Linked DNA regions of Homo sapiens: region 2 is linked to region 1. The links come from fine-mapping of genetic effects on gene expression. A gene starts in region 1. The other region holds a variant in brackets. All regions are shown on one strand. Distances are from middle to middle. Region 1 holds the start of TMEM52B (transmembrane protein 52B). Region 2 overlaps LOC728715 (ovostatin homolog 2).

What was found.
Region 2: its variant is fine-mapped to the expression of TMEM52B in macrophages (Alasoo 2018, PIP 0.95).

Annotation. Positions count from the first base shown.
Region 1 is chr12:10,175,906-10,181,276 of GRCh38, reverse strand. It overlaps TMEM52B (transmembrane protein 52B), which reads right to left and starts at 2,245. Exons shown (of 5, transcript NM_001384896.1): 1 at 1,649-2,245. The coding sequence starts at 1,702. It also overlaps a transcript of OLR1 not described here. RefSeq lists an enhancer at 688-1,887.
Region 2 is chr12:9,400,511-9,405,881 of GRCh38, reverse strand. LOC728715 (ovostatin homolog 2) reads left to right here. Exons shown (of 9, transcript NR_144634.1): 3 at 3,329-3,455; 4 at 4,023-4,135. Among named protein-coding and RNA genes, the nearest start is that of LINC02367, 36 kb to the right of the region's middle. RefSeq lists an enhancer at 2,323-2,964. The variant A/C (reference allele first, on the strand shown) is at 2,695.

The sequences.
Region 1 (5,371 bases):
TGTGTTGGATGAATTAATAGCACTGGGGACAAGTTTGCTCTAACAATTCCTTGACATTGCTATGAAGTCCCTTCTACTCCCTTTACAGAAAACAAAAAAACAAACAAAACTGTCCACTCTTTCTTCTACCTGATTTTTTAGTTGACTTCCTCTTTCAAAAACCCATTCAAGGCTGGGTGCAGTGGCTCACACCTGCAATCCCACCACTTTGGGAGGCCGAGGTGGGTGGATCACTTGAGGTCAGGAGTTCGAGATCAGCCTGACCAACATGGTGAAACCCCATCTCTACTAAAAAAATACAAAATTAGCCAGGCGTGGTGGTGCATGCCTGCAATCCCTGCTACTTGGGAGGCTGAGGCAAGAGAATCGCTTGAACCCAGGAGGCGGAGGTTGCAGTCAGCCAAGATCGTGCCACTGCACTCCAGCCTGGGTAACAAGGGCAAAACTCCGTTTAAAAACAACAACAACAACAACAACAAACCATTTAAGTAAACTCAATTCTAGAAGTTGCTTCTGTCTTCTAATAACCTGAGTGATCTGATATTTCAGGAAAGCAACCACAAAGGCCCTAGAAAAGAAACAGATTTGTAACTATTGGGAGTTTATGGCGGGTAGTGAAGGGGTAAGGAGACACACATTCTCAAGACCTATCAGTTGGAAAGGATCTGTAAAAGGATTAATGGCCAGCCTTTGCAGGTAACATTTGAGAAACCCGTGTTTGTGTTTTCATTGGAAAGAAATGGCCACTAACGATGAAAAAGCGTGTGTTTCCTCTACGCAACCATGGTACTTTCTTTCACTTTCTTCACTAAAGGTAAGAGAAGCCTAAAGTGCTCAGCAGAGAAAATGCTACTTTTCAGGCTTGTTGCAAAGAGAAAAGAAAGGAAAAATGAAGGGAAGACAAGGCAAAGGGAGTGAAGAGGAAGCAAAAAGAAAATATAAGAAAAAATGGATTTTCAGATACCACTTTAACTGTTCTATTAGCAAAAAAAAAAAAAAAACAAACCATACAGCCCACTCTGTACGGGGGCCATACGGGAATCTGAGACTATCCAGTTTTCTTCATTTGCTCTCCTTCTTGCTAGATGGCATAGCTCTATAAACTTCCCTGTGACAATTGTTTAGAATCCCTCAGTCCAGTGACCCTTTTCTCCACTAATGGATTACTCAGAGACTTCTGATTCATTGTGGGGCCCAAAATATTTTAAAAGAGCCCTGCCTCTCTTATTTCTAGACTAGAGGCACCTAAACTGCTAGAACAGGATTAGAAATTCCTGGATGGGAAATTCCGTTTAGGGGAATTACACACCTAGTTTTCATAATTTGTTTGGAATTTTGAGGGATGGGTGATAAGATGCTAAAAGAGATAAAATACTTCAGCGGCACTTCTAAAGTGCCACGGCAATCCTGCTCGTTTCCATGCTCACTCTAATTTCTGTCCCCCTTTTCATTGTCATTGCCATCAGTCACACATGCATCTATGCAATCTCGTAATACTAAGGAAACTTTGTAGTTTATTCATTTCCCTATGACCCCCTGGGTTCTGTATATGTCTCCCCACCCCGCAGTTCATTTCCTTTCAGACTCTTCTGAGAGTTGATTAATCTGGGGAAAAATACTCTTTCTGCCTTTTCACCACTGAACTCACCAGGATGAAATACAGCAGGGCTGAGGCCGCCACGACATGAACTCGGACTCCCATCGGGCTGAATTCCTGCTTCTTCAGAATCTTGCACTGGGCATCCGTTGCCTCCTTTCAATGCTCTGTGCCATATTTTACTTCTTGACCTAGAATTCTTAAGAAGAGAAACTTTTCTCAGGAATTTATCAGCTTTTCTCTCTCTCGTTCTCTCTGTCTCCTCCTACTCGCTCTGGCTGTTATTTTCTATGGCTTTTCCCTCTTCTTTCCTGTTTTTCTTCTTTATTCTTATTACTATTTCTATGGCCTCCACATTTACTTCCTTTTGCCTTCTTTCTTTCCGTTACACTATTAATTCTTTCTACATCTTGAAGTTTCTTTCTCCTACTGCTCCCAAAAAGGAGACATTCAAAGAGGACATATGTGTCCTCTGAATGAAGTATTTTTCTAGACAGCGATGAAAAACTTGGCTTTGAGGATGGTCAAAGGCAGATTGCTGGTGACCAAATATATTCCTTTCTTCATCAGAAAACTGGTAATATTCTTGATCCTTCACCAGAGTACTCCAGCGTGACTGTTGCAGGGTGAAAGTCACCCTGCTAATCTCCTTTCTTCTCTCTCCGTGTGACTAACAACCCCTTCTTGCTCTTTGAAACCCTCCCCTTCACTATGTTGATAATCAACTCTCCTGGTTCTGGGTCATTTATATCCCTAAGCATTGGGGTAAGACTGAGAGGTTGCCAAGTGAACAGGAAAGCCATCTCATCTTTGGAGAAAACAGACTTGAAGATGAGAAATCAAGTCGGAAGATTAGAATTTTCAGGTGTTATCAGTGACATCTTCCTCCTCCCTGACTTCACTTCCCATTGAAATAGATAACTGAGAAAGACATTTTTTTAAAACCAAATTTTAAAAAAGCAAATGTATAGGTTTCTTTCTTTCTTGCCTTTTCTTTGTTCCTTCTTTCTCTCTCTTTCTCTCTCTCTCTCTCTCTTTGGTTAAGGAGTGATGTGATTGAGAAATAAGTCTTGTCACTCAGGAAAATAAAACCTAAGGTTAGAGTAAAAACAAGCACACATGCAAAAGCATAGAATACTTTTTTTTTTTTTTTTTTTGAGACGGAGTCTTGCTCTGTCACCCAGGCTGGAGTGCAGTGGCGCAATCTCGGCTCACTGCAAACTCTGCCTCCTGGGTTCATGCCATTCTCCTGCCTCAGCCTCCCGAGTAGCTGGGAATACTGGCGCCCACCACCACGCCCGGCTAAGTTTTTTTGTATTTTTAGTAGAGACGAGACGGGGTTTCACCATGTTAACCAGAATGGTCTCGATCTCCTGACCTCATGATCCGCCCGACTCGGCCTCCCAAAGTGCTGGGATTACAGGCGTGAGCCACCGTGCCTGGCCTAGAATACTTACAATGAAACAAAGCTATAGACACAAATGTGGCCGGGTGCCATGGCTCATGCCTGTAATCCCAGCACTTTGGGAGGCCAAGGCGGGCTGATAACTTCGGCCAGGAGTTTGAGACCAGCCTGGAGAACATGATGAAACCCTTTCTCTACGAAACATACAAAAATTAGCTGTGTGTCATGGCAGGCACCTGTAATCCCAACTACTTGGGAGGCTGAAGCAGGAGGGCCACTTGAACCCGGAAGGCAGAAGTTGCAGTGAGCCGAGATCACACCACTGCACTCCAGCCTGGGTGATAGAGCGAGAATCTGCCTCAAAAAAGCAAAATATTAAAAGAAACAAAAGAATGCTGTATGAATGATTTATACTTAAGTAGGTGATCTTTTACTTAATACCAAATGTTTAATAAAAAAATTATTATTATTATTATTATTATTATTATTATTATTATTATTATTATTTGAGACAGAGTCTCTCTGTCACCAGGCTGGAGGGCAGTGGTGCAATCTCGGCTCACTGCAACCTCTGCCTCCTGGGTTCAAGCAATTCTCCTGCCTCAGCCTCCTGAGTAGCTGGGATTATAGACACCTGCCACGACACCCAGCTAACTTTTCTATTTTCAGTAGAGACAAGGTTTTACCATATTGGCCAGGCTGGGATAAGAAAAGTAGAAGTTAGTTTACAGTGATATATCTATCTCATAAGAATTGAATAAAACCTCCTTTCAGGACCTTTCTAGCTCAGTAAATCTAATTATGCTGAGTGATTGTGGAAGGGAGACTCTTGGGTGAGCTGATCATACTCTAAGGGTCCTCACACATAGCTTGATGATGGGATATGAGAATGCAGGATATAAACTGGTTTTGTTCTCAGCTAAGGAAAACAAATAATGAGAAAATGGCCTGGTACCATACTGGTGATTTAAAATCTGTCAGTTTCAAGACGAAATGAGCACTGACAGTCTTTTATTTTTTATTTTTTTAAATTAGGCAACTGGGGTTAGGATGAAGGGTGATTTCCAGATTTCAGTAGAAGACTTGGCAAGGTGGAAGGTATTTTATAGGACAAGGAGAGCAGGGCTTTAGGTGGCCTTCCACTAAATTATTATGTAATTCCTCCAGTCCTTAACGTTCCCATTCATACAACAGGAGCAGAATACCCACTTGACCTGCTTTAGATGTTATTTCCTAGAGAAAATAAAATAAGAGACAGGAAAGCATTTTGAATAGGATATTTCTATCATGAGTGCCCTGTACGTAGGGAACCCATCATGAAACTTTCCCTTCTCTTTTTCTTGACAGAAAGACAGTAGAGCACCAAGACCTAAAGCCTAGCCAGGATACCTGGGTTTAAATACTTGGTTTTGTCACTTATGAGCTGTGTGATCTTGGAGCAGGTTATTAGACCTCTATTGGCTCATTTTCATTTTATATAAAATGGGGGTAATAGTAGTAATATTTACTTGATAGCCTTATACAGATTAAATAAGTTAATGTGTGTAAAATGAATATAACAGTCCTGATATTTTTTGTGTTTGCTAAGATTATTTTGATTTTCACTAAAGTTTACCAGTGACCTTTACTTTCAAGATTCTGGATAATTACTGTCCTTTATGCTTCTCTTGTATATTTTTATACCATTCCCTCTCCAGACCACATTTTAGTCTCCTGATATTCTAATTCTTGAATATTTTTCCTTGCTAGCCTGGCCACCTTTTCTCCCAACCACGCCAGCCTTCACCTGCCTAAACAGGTTTGCTGGTTAACATGACTCCCCGCTCGCATTGCACTTTTCTAACACGTAATTGCCATCATCTTTTTGCCCTCCAGCTTCCAAACAGGTTTGAACAAAATAGGTTCTGTTAATGACCTCCTTGTGACTTTCCTTTCTTAGAATTATTACTACCCTTTTTTTTTTTCTCACCAGATTAGTCCCTGGAAAGATAAAAGTTTGTTTTTATCCTAATGAATGAGATTATGCCTTGGGGCAGCTTTAACTCTGAATCCTGTCCCTAACCAAGCCTCCATATAGGGAATGATGAAAGAAGAAAGATAATTCAGACAAGAAGACTGAACGAAGTACACTTTGGACAGGTACAGAAGGGCAGGTAGCTGGGATAGAGGGAAATGGTCTCATTACAATCCTATACAATCTTGTGCAGTTCCATTAAGCTTGTGAATCATTAGCTTATGTCCAGGTAGTTAAGGACTTGGAGTGGAACCAGTAGAGGGTGCATGTACATAGAGTTTTACACCTATGCTTCAGGGAATTGTTATACAACTGGTGTAACAAGTGTAGCCAAACAAATTGCTTACTTCTGGTT
Region 2 (5,371 bases), 780 kb after region 1:
GGGGGTCCCAAGAGCCTGGGGGGGAAGAGGGGCTGGCTCGCAGTCCCCGACTCGTGGGGGATGCCTCCCCCCCTTGCCATGGGGGATGCCTCCCCGCCTTGCCATGGGGGGATGCCTCCCCGCCTTGCCATGGGGGGATGCCTCCCCGCCTTGCCATGGGGGGATGCCTCCCCGCCTTGCCATGGGGGGATGCCTCCCCGCCTTGCCATGGGGGGATGCCTCCCCGCCTTGCCATGGGGGGATGCCTCCCCGCCTTGCCATGGGGGGATGCCTCCCCGCCTTGCCATGGGGGGATGCCTCCCCGCCTTGCCATGGGGGGATGCCTCCCCGCCTTGCCATGGGGGGATGCCTCCCCGCCTTGCCATGGGGGGATGCCTCCCCGCCTTGCCATGGGGGGATGCCTCCCCGCCTTGCCATGGGGGGATGCCTCCCCGCCTTGCCATGGGGGGATGCCTCCCCGCCTTGCCATGGGGGGATGCCTCCCCGCCTTGCCATGGGGGGATGCCTCCCCGCCTTGCCATGGGGGGATGCCTCCCCGCCTTGCCATGGGGGGATGCCTCCCCGCCTTGCCATGGGGGGATGCCTCCCCGCCTTGCCATGGGGGGATGCCTCCCCGCCTTGCCATGGGGGGATGCCTCCCCGCCTTGCCAAGAGCCAGGTTGAAAGAGGGGCTGGCTCTCAGTCCCAGCCTTGTAGGGGGTGCCTCACCCCCTGCGTTGGGTGTCTTAATAGCCAGCGGGGGGAGAGGGGCTGGCTCTCAGTCCCAGCCTCCTGGGGTGTGTCTCACCCTCCTGCGATGGGGGTCCTAATAGCCCCGGGGGGAAAGGCGCTGGCTCTCAGTCCCCGCCCCGTGGGGGGTGCTTCCCCCCCGCGATGGGGGACCTAAGAGCCAGGTGGGGAAGAGGGGCTGCCTCTCAGTCCCCGCCTCGCGGGGGGTGCCTCCCCCGCCTGCGATGGGGGTCCCAAGAGCCAGGGGGAAAGAGGGGCTTTCTCTCAGTCTCTGCCTCGCGGGGGGTGCATCCCTCCACTGCGATGGGGGTTCTAAGAGCCAGAGGGGAAGAGGGGCTGGCTCTCAGAACCTGGCTCGCGGGGGGTGCCTCCCGCCCCTGCGATGGGGGTCCCAAGAGCCCGGGGCAGAAGAGTTGCTGGCTGTCAGTCCCCGCCTCGCTGGGGGTGCCTCCCCCCATCGCGATGGGGGTCCCAAAAGCCAGTGGGGGAAGAGGGGCTGACACTCTGTCCCCGCCTCGCGGTGTGTACCTGCCCCCCCCCCCCGCCTCGCGGTGTGTACCTGCCCCCACTGCGATGGTGGTCCCAAGAGTCAGGGGGGAAGTGGGGCTGGCTCTCAATCCCCGCCTCGCATGGGGTGCCTCCCCCCCCGCGATGGGGGCCTAAGAGCGAGAGGTGAAGAGGGGCTGACTCTCAGTCCCCGCCTTGCATGGGGTACCTCTACCCCCCTGCGATGGCAGTCCTAAGAGACCCGGGGTGAAGAGGAGCTGGCTCTCAGTACCCGCCTCGCGTGGGGTGCCAAGCGCCTGCGATGGGGGTCCTATGAGCCACGGGGGGAAGAGCGGCAGGCTCTCCGTCCCTGCCTCGCGGGGGGTCCCTCTCCCCCGTGCGATGGGGGGTCCCTCCCCCCTGTGCGACGGGGGTCCTAATAGCCAGGAGGGGCAGAGGGGCTGTCTCTCAGTCCCCGCCTCATGTGGGGTGCCTCCCCCCTGTGATGGGGATCCCAAGAGCTGGGGGGAAGTGGGTCTGGCTCTCAGTTCATGCCTCACAGCGGGTGCCTCCCCCCTCTGCGTTGGTTGTTCTAAGAGCCAGGGGGGGAAAAGGGGCTTGCTCTCAGTCCCCGCCTCGCGGGGGGTGCTTCCCTCACCCGCGATCGGGCTCCTAAGAGCCACGGGGGGTAGAGGGGCTGGTTCTCAGTCCCCGCCTCGCATGGGGTGCCTCCCCCCCTTGCGATGCCTCCCCCCCTTGCGATGCCTCCCCCCCTTGCGATGCCTCCCCCCCTTGCGATGCCTCCCCCCCTTGCGATGCCTCCCCCCCTTGCGATGCCTCCCCCCCTTGCGATGCCTCCCCCCCTTGCGATGCCTCCCCCCCTTGCGATGCCTCCCCCCCTTGCGATGCCTCCCCCCCTTGCGATGCCTCCCCCCCTTGCGATGCCTCCCCCCCTTGCGATGCCTCCCCCCCTTGCGATGCCTCCCCCCCTTGCGATGCCTCCCCCCCTTGCGATGCCTCCCCCCCTTGCGATGCCTCCCCCCCTTGCGATGCCTCCCCCCCTTGCGATGCCTCCCCCCCTTGCGATGGGGGTCCGAAGAGCCGCGTGGGGGAGAGGGGCTGGCTCTCAGTCCCCACCTCGCGGGGGGTGCCTCCTCCCCCCTGCGATGGGGGTCCCAAGAGCCTGGGGGGCAAGAGGGGCTGGCTCTCAGTCCCCGCCTCGCGGGGGGTGTGTTCCCCCCTGCAATGGGGGTCTTAAGAGCCAGGGGGAAAGAGCGGCTGGCTCTCAGTCCCCGCCTCACAGGGGGTGCCTCCCCACACTGCGACGGCGGTCCGAAGAGCCTGGAGGGGGGAAGAGGGGCAGGCTCTCAGTCCCCGCCTCGCTGGGGGTGCCTCCCCCACCTGTGACGGGGGTCCTAAAAGCCAGGGGTGGAAGTGGGGCTGGCTCTCAGTCCCCGCCTCGCGAGGTGTGCCTCCCCC[A/C]CCTGCGATGGGGGTCCCAAGAGCCCGGGGCGGAAGAGTTGCTGGCTGTCAGTCCCTGCCTCGCTGGGGGTGCCTCCCCCCACTGCGATGGCTGTCCTAAGAGCCAGGGGGTGAAGAGGGGCTGGCTCTCAGTTCCCGCCTGGCGGGAGTGCCTCCCCCCCCCGCGATGGGGGTCCTAACATCCTGAGGGGGAAGAGGAGCTCTCTCTCAGTCCCCGCCTCGCTGCGGGTGCCTCCGCCCCTGCGATGGGGGTCCTAAGAACCAGGGAGGAAGAGGGGCTGGCTGTCAGTCCCCGTCTCCCGCGGCGTGCCTCCCACCCCTGCGATGGTTGTCCCAAGAGCCACGGGGGAAAGAGGGACAGACTCTCAGTCCCCGCCTCGCTTGGGGTGCCTCCCTCCCTTGCGATGGGGGTCCTAAGAGCCAGGGGGGCAACAGGGGCTGGCTCTCAGTCCCCGCCTCGCGGGAGGTGCCTCCCCACCCTGCTATGGGGGTCCTAAGAGCCGGGGGTGGGAGGGACTGGCTCTCAGTCTCCGCCTCGCGGTGGGTGCCTCCCCGCCCTGCGATGGGGATCCTAAGAGCCAGGGGGGGAAGAGGGGCTTTTCTCTAAGGATCAAAACACTGTCACCTTTAGCAGTGAAGGATCCAGTGAGATTTTCCAGGTTAACGGTCATAATCGCCTACTGGTCCAACGTTCAGAAGTAACACAGGCACCTGGACAATACACAGTAGATGTGGAAGGACACGGTTGTACATTTATCCAGGTAACAGAAATCTGCCTAAGAGGGTGATGAGTGTTTGCCAGTAAAAGAGTCAGACTGTCTGTTCAGTTCTACGTGAAGTGTTATTTGACCGTTTTGTGTATTTACATAATCAATAGCCAAAATTGCAAGTTACTTTTTGAAAAGCTACTCAGCTGTCTAAGAGAAGTTTCTTGAGGAATATTGCTATTAGAAAGTATTCTATCTTCATTAAATTACATTATTCTGAAAACTAAAGAATTTAACCTGATTCCCTGATGATAAAGATGTAAACTGCGTTAGTAATAGAAATAAACAATAGGCTCTTTCTTTTTAAAAATGTTTTAATTTTTGTGGGTACATAGTAGGTGTAAATATTTACCGGGTGCATGATACAGGCATGCAACGTGTAAGAATCACATCAGGGCAAGTGGGGTATGCTCACCTCAAGCATTTATCCATTGTGTTACCAATGATCGAAGTATACTCTTGGTTATTTTAAAATGTAAAATCACATTACTACTGACTCTAGTCAGACTGTATAATTCTTAATACAGGATGGGTTTTCTTATAATTTGCTATCCTTTCTAGGCCACCCTTAAGTACAATGTTCTCCTACCTAAGAAGGCATCTGGATTTTCTCTTTCCTTGGAAATAGTAAAGAACTACTCTTCGACTGCTTTTGACCTCACAGTGACCCTCAAGTAAGTGTCATATTTTGACAGTAACTCCCATGTGAACAAGATGGTAAAATATTTTAAAAGTTCAAACAGTAGTGAAATAACAAAATATAAATCATGGTAATATGATGAGTTCTCATGTTGGTGGTGACAATTCTACAGCACAGTCACTTTTTAGCCCTCTGTCCGGACACCACAATTTAGTACATCTTCAGCTAAATCAGAGCTAAAATGAGGCAAGAAAACATGCAGTCTATGTGAGCAGGATTTGAAAGCTTTCACTGCACTGATGTTTCAATGATACTTTTTATTCTGTTGTATGGAAGTACTCCTAGTTTTGAAAAACAGAGATTCTATATTTCTTTCTCAAGACAAGCATGCATGGTCATATAGTAGCAAGCCCACAAATGTTTCTTTTGTAACTGTAAAGAGTAACATTTTAGATTTTTACTTTTCAGAATAGAAAAACAAAATGATCCTCTTGAATTCAAGCATGATTTATAGATGCTAAAGGCTTTTAGCCTTAGTTAATATGTGGAAAACATTGAGTAAAATTAGTTTGGGAGATATTTTTTAGAATTTCTAAATAAAAATCGCTTGAGCTCCAGGGCTAAGAACTCAGTGAATTGGGGAACTCTTTTTCTTTTTTGGGTTTGTTTTTGAGACAGAGTCTTACTTTGTCACCCAGGCTGCAGTACAGTGGCACAGTGGCACAATCTCAGCTCACTGCAACTTCCACCTCCTGGGTTCAAGGGATTCTTATGGCTCAGCCTCCTGAGTAGCTGGGATTAGAGGCGTGCACCACCACACCTGGCTAATTTTTCTATTTTTAGTAGAGTCAGAGTTTTGCCATATTGGCCAGGCTGGTCTTGAACTCTGACCCTCAAGTGATCCACCCACCTTGGCCTCCAGAAGTGCTGGGATTACAGGTGTGAGCAACCATGCCCTGATGAACTATGGAACTCTCAACTTCACACCCCCATAGTCTTATCCAGAAGCAGGAAACTGAGCTAGAAGTTCTCCTGGGGACACATCTACTCTCTAATTATGCTCATATACCACCTTTTAAGCAAAGATGTCCTCTAAGTGTTATGCAACTCTAACACTAACCTAAGTATATGTAAAAGATTTAGAAGCTCTGTTTATCAGTTCAAACTTTGAGACTGCAGGTAAGCTTAAAAGCAGGGTTTGGGGAAGATTTCATGTCCAGATAATTCATTATTTGCTCCAATTTCTGTTGCTATGTATCATCTCTTTCAT